Homo sapiens: one gene and its partners. The protein of the gene in region 2 interacts with the protein of the main gene of each other region in a pairwise test. Each region holds a gene or a part of one and is shown on either strand. Other genes may lie near its edges. The genes, in order: HIBADH, MAL and CLDN20.

Region 1 (3,655 bases), on a different chromosome or scaffold from region 2:
AATAGATACCCCTGAATGTCTAACGAGAACTCTCCTTTACTGCAAATCTGGATGTTGGATGAATGATTACATATATATAAAATTAACACTGAATTAGGTTTACAACTCCATTGGGTATACTTCTAAGAAGCTGTCACTTATTTGAATGTATATTCATTTTTCATTCTCAAAATCTAAAACAAATCTAAAGAAAAGGTCTTACCTGTTCACCTGCATCTTGAAACTCTTTGCAGGCATCAGGGAACACATCATAAATAATAAGTGGATAGCCATGTTTCATGAGATTTTTTGCCATTGGATTCCCCATGTTGCCCAGTCCAATGAATCCAACTGGAGTCTTTGAAGCCACTGACCTAGAACACACTGATTTCAATACATTATTTTCAATAGGGGCAAATAACATTTTTTATTGTAAACATTCATTTAATATTAGCAAGTCAATTGTTAGATTTTTTTTTTTTAATAAAAGAAACTTTCAGGAACCAGGTGCAGTGGTGCACACCTATAATCCCAGCTACTTGGGAGGCTGAGGTAGGAGGACTGCTCGAGCCCAGGAGTTTTAGAACAGCCTAGGCAACACAGTGAGATCCCATCTCAAAAATAAATAATAATATTTATTAAAAAAAAAACCCACTAACTTTTAAAAGGCAAATTTTAAACTAATGGACCTAACCACATTTAAAGTTATCAACAATGTGCAGGCAGACTAACTTCTAATTATTTAGTTTTCTGGGGCACATTCACAAAATTTTAAGCATTTTTCCTGTTTTGTACCTGTATAACATTCTTTTACCATTTTTAACAATAAACTAAATAATGTTATCATTTATAAAACACCTAATATGTAATTTACTTATAATGTGAAGTATTCCATATTATCTCCCTTAATAATGTGTATAAAAGACAGAAAGTATTCAAAAAGACGTAAGTCTTGGACCAGCTTCAAGAATGGAAAAACTTTTTACCTTCCCACTCCCACAGTTACAGAAACCATCCCCTCCAATGATACAAAAAAAAAAAAACTCAAAAAGATGTTAAACCCAGGAGAATGGAATCACCAGTTTATAAAGGTGGTCCTGGGGTAGAAAGGGGAGATACCTCCATAGGCTTTAAATGGCAAGTGTAACAGTATCAGGACCTTGGTCTAACAACTCTGAACTTTCAGAAAAGAGAGACTTCCTTATTATATTTTTATTTATTTATTTATTTATTTATTTATTTATTTATTTATTTATTTTTTGAGACGGAGTCTCACTCTGTCACCCAGATTGGAGGGCAGTAATGCAATCTCGGCTCACTGAAGCCTCTGCCTATTGGGTTCAAGCAATTCTCATGCCTTAGCCTCCGGTGTAGCTGGGATCACAGACACGCACCACCATGCCTGGCTAATTTTTGTCCTTTTAATAGAGACAGAGTTTCACCATGTTGACCAGGCTGCCATTAAAAAAAAAAAAAAAAAAGCCTTAAAAACTACACAGGTTTTATTTATTCTTTTATTTTTCATATAAGACTTTTTGAAATTACTCCGTGGGCATATGAATCAAAGTAATGCGTTACAGAGTGGGGAGGCTTTACAGTACTATGGAAATAGCGTTAGATGCAATTTTTCACTTTCTAGATTTAGAACTCCACTCAATAAATATTCACTGCATGAAGTACTATGACAGAGCTCAGAGACAGACACAAGCAACGTATGGTCCCTGTCCTTTAAAAGCTCACAGTCTAGTGAGGGAAAAGAGAGAAGTAACTCTCCTTGCTCTTCCATTTCCCAGCATTCTTTTTCTTTTTTCTTTCAAGAACTCCAGCTTTAAAATTTGTAGTGCAACAACTAATCACAGTCCCTCTTTTAAGTTTCAGGTCCCCTCAACTGAACTTAATCTGCTCTTCCCTGAACTGAATCTGAATGGAATGAGATTTGTTAAAAGCAAATTATTTGAAGCCCTAATGCTTAAGAACTAGAGGTCTTCTTGGGTTGGAAGCATATTTAATTCCTTTAACTTAATGACTGACTCTAACACTTCCATTAAATGTGGGTGTCATTTCTGTGCAACATCATTTAACAGGCGCTAAGTTTAATACACTGGTATAATAGTACACTGGTATAATAGTACACTGGTATAGTTTGTCTTTCTGGCCTGCAAGGAATTCAATGACAGAAAAGTGACACCAAACTGAAATTTTATTTTGATATTAAACAGAATGAGTACACTTCATCAGAGAACTCTAACTAATGCTCATAAACAAACTAGCAATAATAGCCAGAAAGAAAATGTGGCATTACTGTGTTAAGGTTGAAAAGGTGTAATTTAGCAATCTAAAAACTTCAGCAACTAGGAAGATTATAATTTAAAGACAGTTAATTTAACAGGCAATTCACTCTAGGTCAAACAATTCATAAGTATGGTCACGTAGAACCACAATTCATTCACAAATTCAACAAACACTAAGCAACTATCACATGTACCAAAAGAGATGCCAAAGAAGGTAAGAGACACAGTCCTTGCCTTCAACAAGCTTAAAACCAAGAAGAAATAAACCATGTACATAAACACTAACATAAGACAGTTAAAGATAAAAACACAATGCTGATGAAAAATGAGAATTCATGGTGTGGGAACTTGAGGAATGTGGCATCTGACCTGGATATTATACAAGGGGTAGGATTTCAAATGGATAGGAGGGTAAGGAGGAGGGGAACTCCATACAGAAAAAGGAACATGAATATATACAAGGAACTAGAAGAGCCATGAAGAAATGACAGTAATAGTTAATATTTACTGCAATTTTACTACATGCCAGACACTATGCTAAGCACTTTATAAACAGACCTATTACCATATGCTATATATGAAGCCCATCTTACAGCTGAGAACCCTGATGCTGAGTTGAAGTAAAATACCTAATACTTTACTAAGTTGTAATGCCAAGATTCAAATCCAGACATTCTAATTCTAGAGTCTCCACTTGTAAACATTGTATGATACTGCCCTCTATTCTTCCTAAAGAATGCACAAAGAAACAAAACAGCAAGAGATTAAGATTAAAAAAAAAATGCAACCATAATGTGGAAGGATAGAAGGATGCTAAACAACTTGTATTTTGTAGGCAAGAGGTAGTTATTGAAACAGTGGGCAAGAGAAATGACAGATGAGACTTACACTTTAGGAACAGAAATGAGGCAGCAGTGTACAATGAATGAACTTGAAGAAAAGAGCCTGGAGGCAAGAAGACCAATATAAAAGTGACAGTAATCCTCTAGATGCCTTAGTTTGAGCTACTATAACAAATATACCATAATGGCTTAAATAACGAACACTTATTTCTCACAGTTCTGGAGGCCAGGAAGTCCAACATGAAGGTGACAGCAGATCCAGTGTCTGGTAGGTCCACTTCCTCGTTTGCTGATGGCCATTTTCTCACTGTATCCTCACATGGTAGAGAGCAGAAAGAGAAGCCACTCTCATGTCTCTCTGTACAACAGCACTAATCCTATTCACAGGAGCTCTATCCGCATGATCTAATTGCCTCCCAAAGGGCCTAGCTCCTAATATCATTATATTGAGGGTTAGGAATTTTGGCCAGGCGCAGCGGCTCACGCCTGTAATCCCAGCACTTTGGGAGGCCAAAGTGGGTGGATCACCTGAGGTCAGGAGTT
Region 2 (3,655 bases):
CATAGCACCTTGACCCCCCCACCTCCCTGCACCTGCTGCCCACCTGCTGGGTGAGAGATACCGCTGTCTTCACAGGTGTTCTCTGAGCTGCTTGACTGAGAAGCAATCAGGAGAGAATTGCATTTGGGTAGAAAAATCAGTGCAATGAAGACTTTGGATTTATTAAAACCAAGTTGTCCCTAAGGAATCAGATGTGGGCATCTCTGACCAGAAAGCGTCCTCTGCTGATGGATCTTAGGTTGCCTGAAGGCACGTGGCAGGGCCGGTGGGATGCACTGTGCATCTTACAAAAATGGGAGCAAAATCAATTAAATAAAAATGCCCAGACCACCATGGAATAAGATGTGTGTGTAGATTTCATCCACAGTTGAGTTTAAGATTCAACAGATTATGTGGCCTTTTCCATAACGGGCACTGACGGAGGGACAGGAGCACATTGGTACAGGCAGGGCTTGGATTCAGGAGGCATGCGAGGGTGGCATGGAGAAATAGGAGGAGGATCCAGCGGGCACATCCAGTGGGAAGAGGGAGGCCCTGGCCTGGGAACCCCTCTCCTAAGTGCCTTTTGCCTGGTGGCTACGTGACCCTCCCAGGAGGACCAATTTAAGTTGCTTCCTCGTTCACACAGTCTCAGGGAGTCCTGCACGTCTTCTCTGTAGCACTCAGCACAAACACAGGTATATTGGGTTAGGGATAACATGGCGCTTTCCCTGACCAGGTGATGGTGGGCTTGAGGTCTGCCTTGCTCACAGCTGCCTCACTGGTGGGGACCAGGAGAAGACCCATCCAGCCATGCATCGGTGTCCAAGTCAGCTAACGGGCCTTGGTCTCCTGGTACCTGGGTGTGGCTGAACTAGAGCCACTTATGAACCAAACCCCAAAGGAGCAGCTTGGGTTGCACATGGTTGGGAAGAGACTCCGTTATGGAATCCCAGTGGGACCCCGTGGGCCAGAGGCGCTTACGGGTGACCTATACACATGCTATCGAGGAACACTGAATTTCACAGTGAGGAAACGATTTTCCTCCTCCTTTACTCTCTTTGGTTTTTCTGATGAAGGCAAGAAGGGCTCAGGGTGGAGCCAGGTGTCTGGAGTTCTCTAATAGCGTGGATAGGCAAAGGTAAACCGGATAGTGACATTGTTTCTATGCTTATGGTTGCAATGTCATTATTTTGGGAAAAATTAACTGTAAAATACATATGAGGTAAATTAATGCACAGATGGCAGCTGGAAATGGCAAATCTGAGAAGGTAGTCCTCAGCTCCTGTCTGCAGAGTCATCTCACTCCACTCCATTCTTCCCACGTGGCTTAAGATGTGACTGGTGTGAGGAATCAATGGCAGGAAAAGTGAGGGGAAGTCAGTGTGTGGAGAGCTGGTCACAGCCTCCTGTGTGCACCTTGCTGGCTGCAGCCACAGCCTGGGCTCTGAGCTTCCGGCAGCTGCGCGGAGGGCCTTGAGGTCAGGCCAGACTCTGCCCTGTTCCAGTGTGTGCTTTTACCAACCTGATGAAGACTATTTTCCAGCTCCCTGGGAAATTCCATGCTCCCCACACTGGCTCGCAGGTTCCTGCAGTCTATAGTGGGAACCTTGTCCACAGTTGTCCATAGAACAAAGCCCACTATGGGTTTAACCCCAGCTCCTGACAGATCTCAGGACCCCACCCAGCCTCTGGGGGCATCACCTTGCAAGTGAGTCCTTTAAAAAATGAGGCCGACTTTTTTCCTTTGCATGGTATATTTATAGCAGTATGTTTCATAGTGAGATGGTGGGGAGACATTATCTTTTTCTTTTCTTAAACAGCTTTATGAGCTATAATTCACAGCCCATGCAGTTCCCCCATTGAAAGGGTATGATTCCCTGGTTTTCAGAATATTCGCAGATACGTGCGTCCATCACCACAGTCAATCTTGGAACATTGTCATCACCTTGGAAAGAAATCCCATGAGCTGTGGCTTCCCTGCCCCCATTCCAAGCAACCACTAATCTACTTTCTATCTCTACAAACTTCCATATTTTGAACTTTCATATGAATGGAATCATTCAACATATGGACTTTTGTGGCTCACTTCTTTCATTTAGTATAATGTCTTCAGGTGAGAAATTCTCTCTCAAGGGGACTTACACAGAATATCTCTACCGTTGCAGCTGCACAGTGCCCCTTTTGGACCCCACCATTCAGGGGGCCCTGGGTGAGTGTGTCTCATGTCCCTGGAGCCTCCAACCCAGAAGCCTCTGAGGAACCACGTTCCTAGGGACGCTCTTACACCAGTCCTTGCCTGTCCCAGAAACATATGAAGGTGAAGGTAGTCACAGATGTCTCAGCACAGATGACATCATGAAAGCCAGGGGTTTGCTCCCAGGGGATGGGCAGTGGGGCGGTCGACCTTCCGCTCAGCACTGCCCAGGAGATGCCCAGGGAGGACTGCAGAGCCCAGGGTCACAGGGGCCATCTGGGGGACAGGGCGGAGGAGGGTGAAGAGCAATCCTGAGAAGAAGAGGAGGATACGGGAAAGGCACAGCCGAGTCAGGAGAGATTTCATTCCCGGCTAGGTGTCTGTGGAACAGAAACAGCTGTTGCCTCAGCTGAGTCATGCCCCTTGCCTTTGGAGCACAGGCCTTTGCCGCGGTCTTCTCTGGGAGAATTCTAATGCAGAGGCGCCCTGCCAGCTCCCTCCCCTTGGCAGGGGACTCCCGTTCTCAGAGGAGCTGTCCTCCGAAGTCACTGTGGGACGCTGCAGCAAGTGATTCTGCCTCTTGGCCCCAGCTTCCTCTCTGCAAATGGCAACTCACAGCAGTCTCCCCACACTGGGGGCTGGTGTGAACTGGCTAAAACTACAGATGTGAGTATGAAGCTTCTGGCACTGAGCCCAGCACTACCAATACCTGGGAATAAGTTGTCGTTCATGCAGGAGGCTGACAGCTCAGTGGAAACAGATGCATAAGCAGCCACTTAACATGCAGGTGGACAACCAGCCCCGAGTGGGCAGAGCAGCCTGGACAGGTGCATAGGGTCAGTCGAGCCTTGGAGAGAGAGGTGGACCTAACTGGTTAACCAGGCCAAAGGACTGGGAGGGGCTCTCCAGAGGGCAGAAAGGGCACATGCCAAGCTCAGAGGATGCTGAAGCAGCTGTGAGGGCTTTGGAGGCTGAAGGCTGGGCAGCCGGGCTTGGGTCAAGGAGTAGCAGAAGGTGGGGCTCCAGGGAGGGTGAGCCTCCAGCCCCGCTGTGTGCAAAGCTGAGATTTGTTGTAAACCATGAGTCAAATCTGGTTCCTGCCCTGCTCCACCTACTAAATGTACAGAGAGCAAACAGAGTAAGAAGGGCACCCACACCAGGGAGTTAAGGCACTCCTGGGCACAGAGCAATCTGTTCCAGCCTGGCCTCAGGACCCCGCTGGCCAAATATTTGTCCAGAGCAAGGGAGTATGTGAGGGTTCAAGCATTTCCTTTCATCAAGGAGACTCCAGGTGGCTCCCAGCCTCCAGGTGGCAGTGCAAAGAGGCAATTATTTTGAAAACATTATTGGCACCCTGGAGGCACGGTGCTGTGTCCCCTTTGTTTCTGCCAACTGGCCAGACTTCCTCCGACCCCACAGCTGCACCCTGTTACTGTCCATCAAAATAGAGATGGGACAGCTGGCTGGGTGATCTCAAAG
Region 3 (3,655 bases), on a different chromosome or scaffold from region 2:
GGGCTTAGACCAATATTTAAGCCACAGAAAGTCCTCAGTAATTTAAAATTGACATCATTATTAGTATTTTTATTTCTTATGTATTGTGACAATTGATGTTTAAAATTATTTGGATCTTTTCCCTTTTTCTCTTCCTTCCTTGGGCTGATTTATTTTCATAGAATCTTGGAGCTGAAAGAAACCTCAGACAGACAATCTCAAGCATCCTTGTTTTTTCAGATCAGAATGTTCAGATAGGATATCACCCCATGTCATACAGTCTTCAGCAGCCAACCTGCAGCGTCCAGATCTCTCTCCACCCCTCCTACCTCACAGGGTCATCCCGCATCCTTTCCCCTTTTACCACAACACTTCCTGCTGAAATTCTTTCTCCCCCTGTGTGTTTCCCTTGGGAACCAGGGAAAACACTGTATCTGGAGGCAAAAAGCACCATTAACTGTCTACTTCACCCACTCCCCTCCCCACCAAGGAAAAAAAGGACTGTAGAGGATGTTAATAGGCCACATGGCTCAGCTTCAGATGACTCGGCAAGGAGATTGATGCCTGGCTTTGGTTAAATATTTGAAATAGTACTAATCCATTGCCTATATTTAAAGTATAAACTTTGCATAGCTACAAACATTGATTCTCTAAGACATTAGATCCTAGACTATCTGGATTGTGCTGTTCTGTTTTTGTTCATAATCTGAAAATGTAAATCTTACCATTTTAGAAAAGGATTTCCCTAGGATTTTAAGTTCTTAAGAGTCAGACTTATCTGTAGACATCAGTGTGCCTAGGATTCACCTGCTATCATACAGTTTCTTTTCTGTTTTCCAAACTTAGACCAAAATAGAACAAAAGTTAAAGTTTCTAGAAAAAAAATCAAGCACATGTTTACAGTTTTGTAATAGCTGCTTTCAAGTTTAGGTTTTAGCATTTCGGACTCCAGCCAGCTTGCTAAATTACTGCCTCTGGACCATTTTCAGCTTAGGGATTCTTCAAGTGTGGGGTTGCTGGAACATTTTCTAACAGCATCTGCTTGCTCACTTTTCTCTCTCCCTCTCTCTTTCTTTCTACTTTGACTGAATAACCTTTGTTGTCAATCTATGTTCAGCTTACCAATTATAATCCTTTTCTTCCCATTAACTGATATATTTTATAACTTTCAGTATATTTCAGACATGAAGACAGTTTGTTCATCATGATTAACAAGTACTGGCAGTGATCAATTACAGACAGCCAAAATCAGTGTAAACAATATGACGTGTCATTTAATTAGCATAGTGCTTGCTTACTGTTGAATATTGGATTCAAATGCTTTTTTTTCTGCATAGAGAACTTATGTAGAAAGAATTTGTTCTCCAAATGAAGGTCACTTTCTGCTCATACAAATATACTGGCATTTTAGCTGCATTGCGCTTTACCCTCCAGCCACGAGTATAATACCGTTTGTGGCCTGTTCTCTCAAAATTTCTATCTCGTAGAGAATAAAGGCACACTTTGTTCCAGCAGCTGTGGTGGTGGTGGTAGAGAAATACTGTGAAGGCAAGCAGAAGCAGAGGGGAGGGGTCGCATGTAAACACTTACATGGTCTACAGTGAAAACTCTCTCATGGTCCCAAAACACAGTGCACACAGAACAGAACCCAGGCACCTTCAGTTTATGAACTACTCGCCAACAGAAAGTCTGTTGTAGATTTCACTAAAATGTAAAGTCAGCTTTCCAGACAAGGTTTATTTATATCAAAAATAATATTTAAAAGCAGATTTACTGCTTATAATTCGAACTAAATAATACCGAAAGACCTATTCTTAGATCTCTAAGCATTAAGACAGGTTTTATTTACCATACCTTTTGTCAGTAGCCTTCACTGTCTTAACTCCTTCGGTCAGTTGTCTTCAAATTAACCTCAGTTAGTTATGGTGAAGAAAAACCATATACGTGAGGCTTATTTCAGAAATTCTGGATATGTTTATAAAGCTCCAATAAGTTAACTTGAAAAAAGCAAATAAAGGACAACGTAGAAATCTGAGAGGTAAAAACTGCTGATGGTGTTAGAAGATAAATACCAGGTTCTCCATCTCATTTTTTGAGATGTGGGAGAATTAAGAAAGGAGAGGCGGGGAAGGGAGGGAATTGTTGTTACAACAGGATTTGTTGAAACCTGAAAGCTAAAAATGCTTTTGTGTCACTGTGTACAGAGGAGGAATTATTTGGGTGCTCACAAAAAGGCCTTCTTTTCTTTTAATATAATGTTTTAGTCACATAGTTATAACTTATTTTTGAAATTTTCTCTATGTTGAAAGATATAATGTATTATTTTATGTCCTCAGTTCAAGAATGTGGTCTGAAATATTTTTAACAATGTCGTGCCTTGCAAATGAGAGTTGAGACTCCCTTTTTTCCCTGGTATTCTTGACTTGTCTGGAACCTGAATTCATAAAATTGTTAATTTTCAAAATAATCATTCAGAAGAAAGTTTTTTAACATATGTATTTTTTTCAATAAAAGAAAAAAGAAAACCCAGCAACAACTTTTGACTAGAATCTGATCACTAAACCTACAGGTATTTTTGTGTGTGTGGTGCCCTGAGTTTTCTTGTTATTGCTTCCACTTAGATTTGTGGAGTATAACTATAGAGATTCAGGAAATGTTATGAATAAATTACCCAAAATGATGTGATGAGACACATCAGATAAGACTGTGATCAGATACTGAGGTTGTAGCCCATGAATAATGGTACAGATGGATTTCACTGCCATCCTTTTGGGTTCTCATTTTTTTCTTCCTCAGTAAGTTTTATTCTACAAGCTATAAATTCATAGCCATTATACAGAAAGAAGATAATTTTATTATTGGATTTTTAAATTTAACAACTGTTAATAACCATGTTAGACTTTAATCATTTCTTTAAAAGTAGTAAATAAACAAACACATGTTTCGGTTATCTGGATTTTTTGTTTTGGTTTGTTTTAATCCTAAGTTTTGCATTGAGCAAGATACTCTTTTTCCTCTTTTCTAAGTCTAACATCTGTGGGTTTGCTTTTCAGCCATAGTATTGATTACATGTTAAGTCTTAGCTCTCTAAGTCGTTGTAAGCTTTATGTGTACTGGCTTTGTTCTTTGATTTTATTTCATGGGAAATACAAACAATTCAGTGCATAAATAAATACTGGAAGAAGTTGAGTTGAATTGCAGACACTAATAGTCGCAGCAGTGTCATTAGTGCTGCATCCGAAGACACCTCACCAGGGCCCTCCAGCGTCCTGGCTTGTTTCGCTGGTCGCCATGGTTGTTAGTGCAGACATAAGCTTTGTGAGGCTGACTGATGGCAGATGGAGGGACCCGGCTGCTCCCCACTCTAACCTCTAGCATAAGGAAGCTGGCTGGAGGATAAATGGGTTAAGCATGCTTTAATGTACATTTAATGTACATTTCTATTCTCAAAACATGTTGATTATTTTTTTGCCTTGATGAAAACAATAATCCTATAAAATATTAATTGCCTGCTTTAGAAGGAAAACTTCTGAACTGGAAGCAACTTTCGTTAGCTATAGACCTTTAATGAAGGCAGAATTTCTTATATAAAAAAGGAGCTAGGAAAGTAGAAGTGTAAATAGAAATATAGTTTATCAACATTACTATCCACTTCTGATGTGGACATTAAAGGGAT

What was found.
Region 1: the proteins of MAL (region 2) and HIBADH interact in binary tests that used the Homo sapiens proteins (3 or more experiments, as listed by UniProt).
Region 3: the proteins of MAL (region 2) and CLDN20 interact in binary tests that used the Homo sapiens proteins (3 or more experiments, as listed by UniProt).

Annotation. Positions count from the first base shown.
Region 1 is NC_000007.14:27,649,271-27,652,925, forward strand, and holds part of HIBADH (3-hydroxyisobutyrate dehydrogenase, mitochondrial isoform 1 precursor), read right to left. Parts: intron 3,381-3,655; exon of another isoform or gene 3,330-3,380; intron 364-3,329; coding exon 203-363; intron 1-202.
Region 2 is NC_000002.12:95,042,568-95,046,222, reverse strand, and holds part of MAL (myelin and lymphocyte protein), read right to left. Parts: intron 339-3,655; exon of another isoform or gene 76-338; intron 1-75. UniProt on the Homo sapiens protein: May be involved in vesicular trafficking from the Golgi apparatus to the cell membrane. Plays a role in the maintenance of the myelin sheath, and in axon-glia and glia-glia interactions.
Region 3 is NC_000006.12:155,270,375-155,274,029, reverse strand, and holds part of CLDN20 (claudin-20 precursor), read right to left. Parts: intron 1-3,655. UniProt on the Homo sapiens protein: Plays a major role in tight junction-specific obliteration of the intercellular space, through calcium-independent cell-adhesion activity.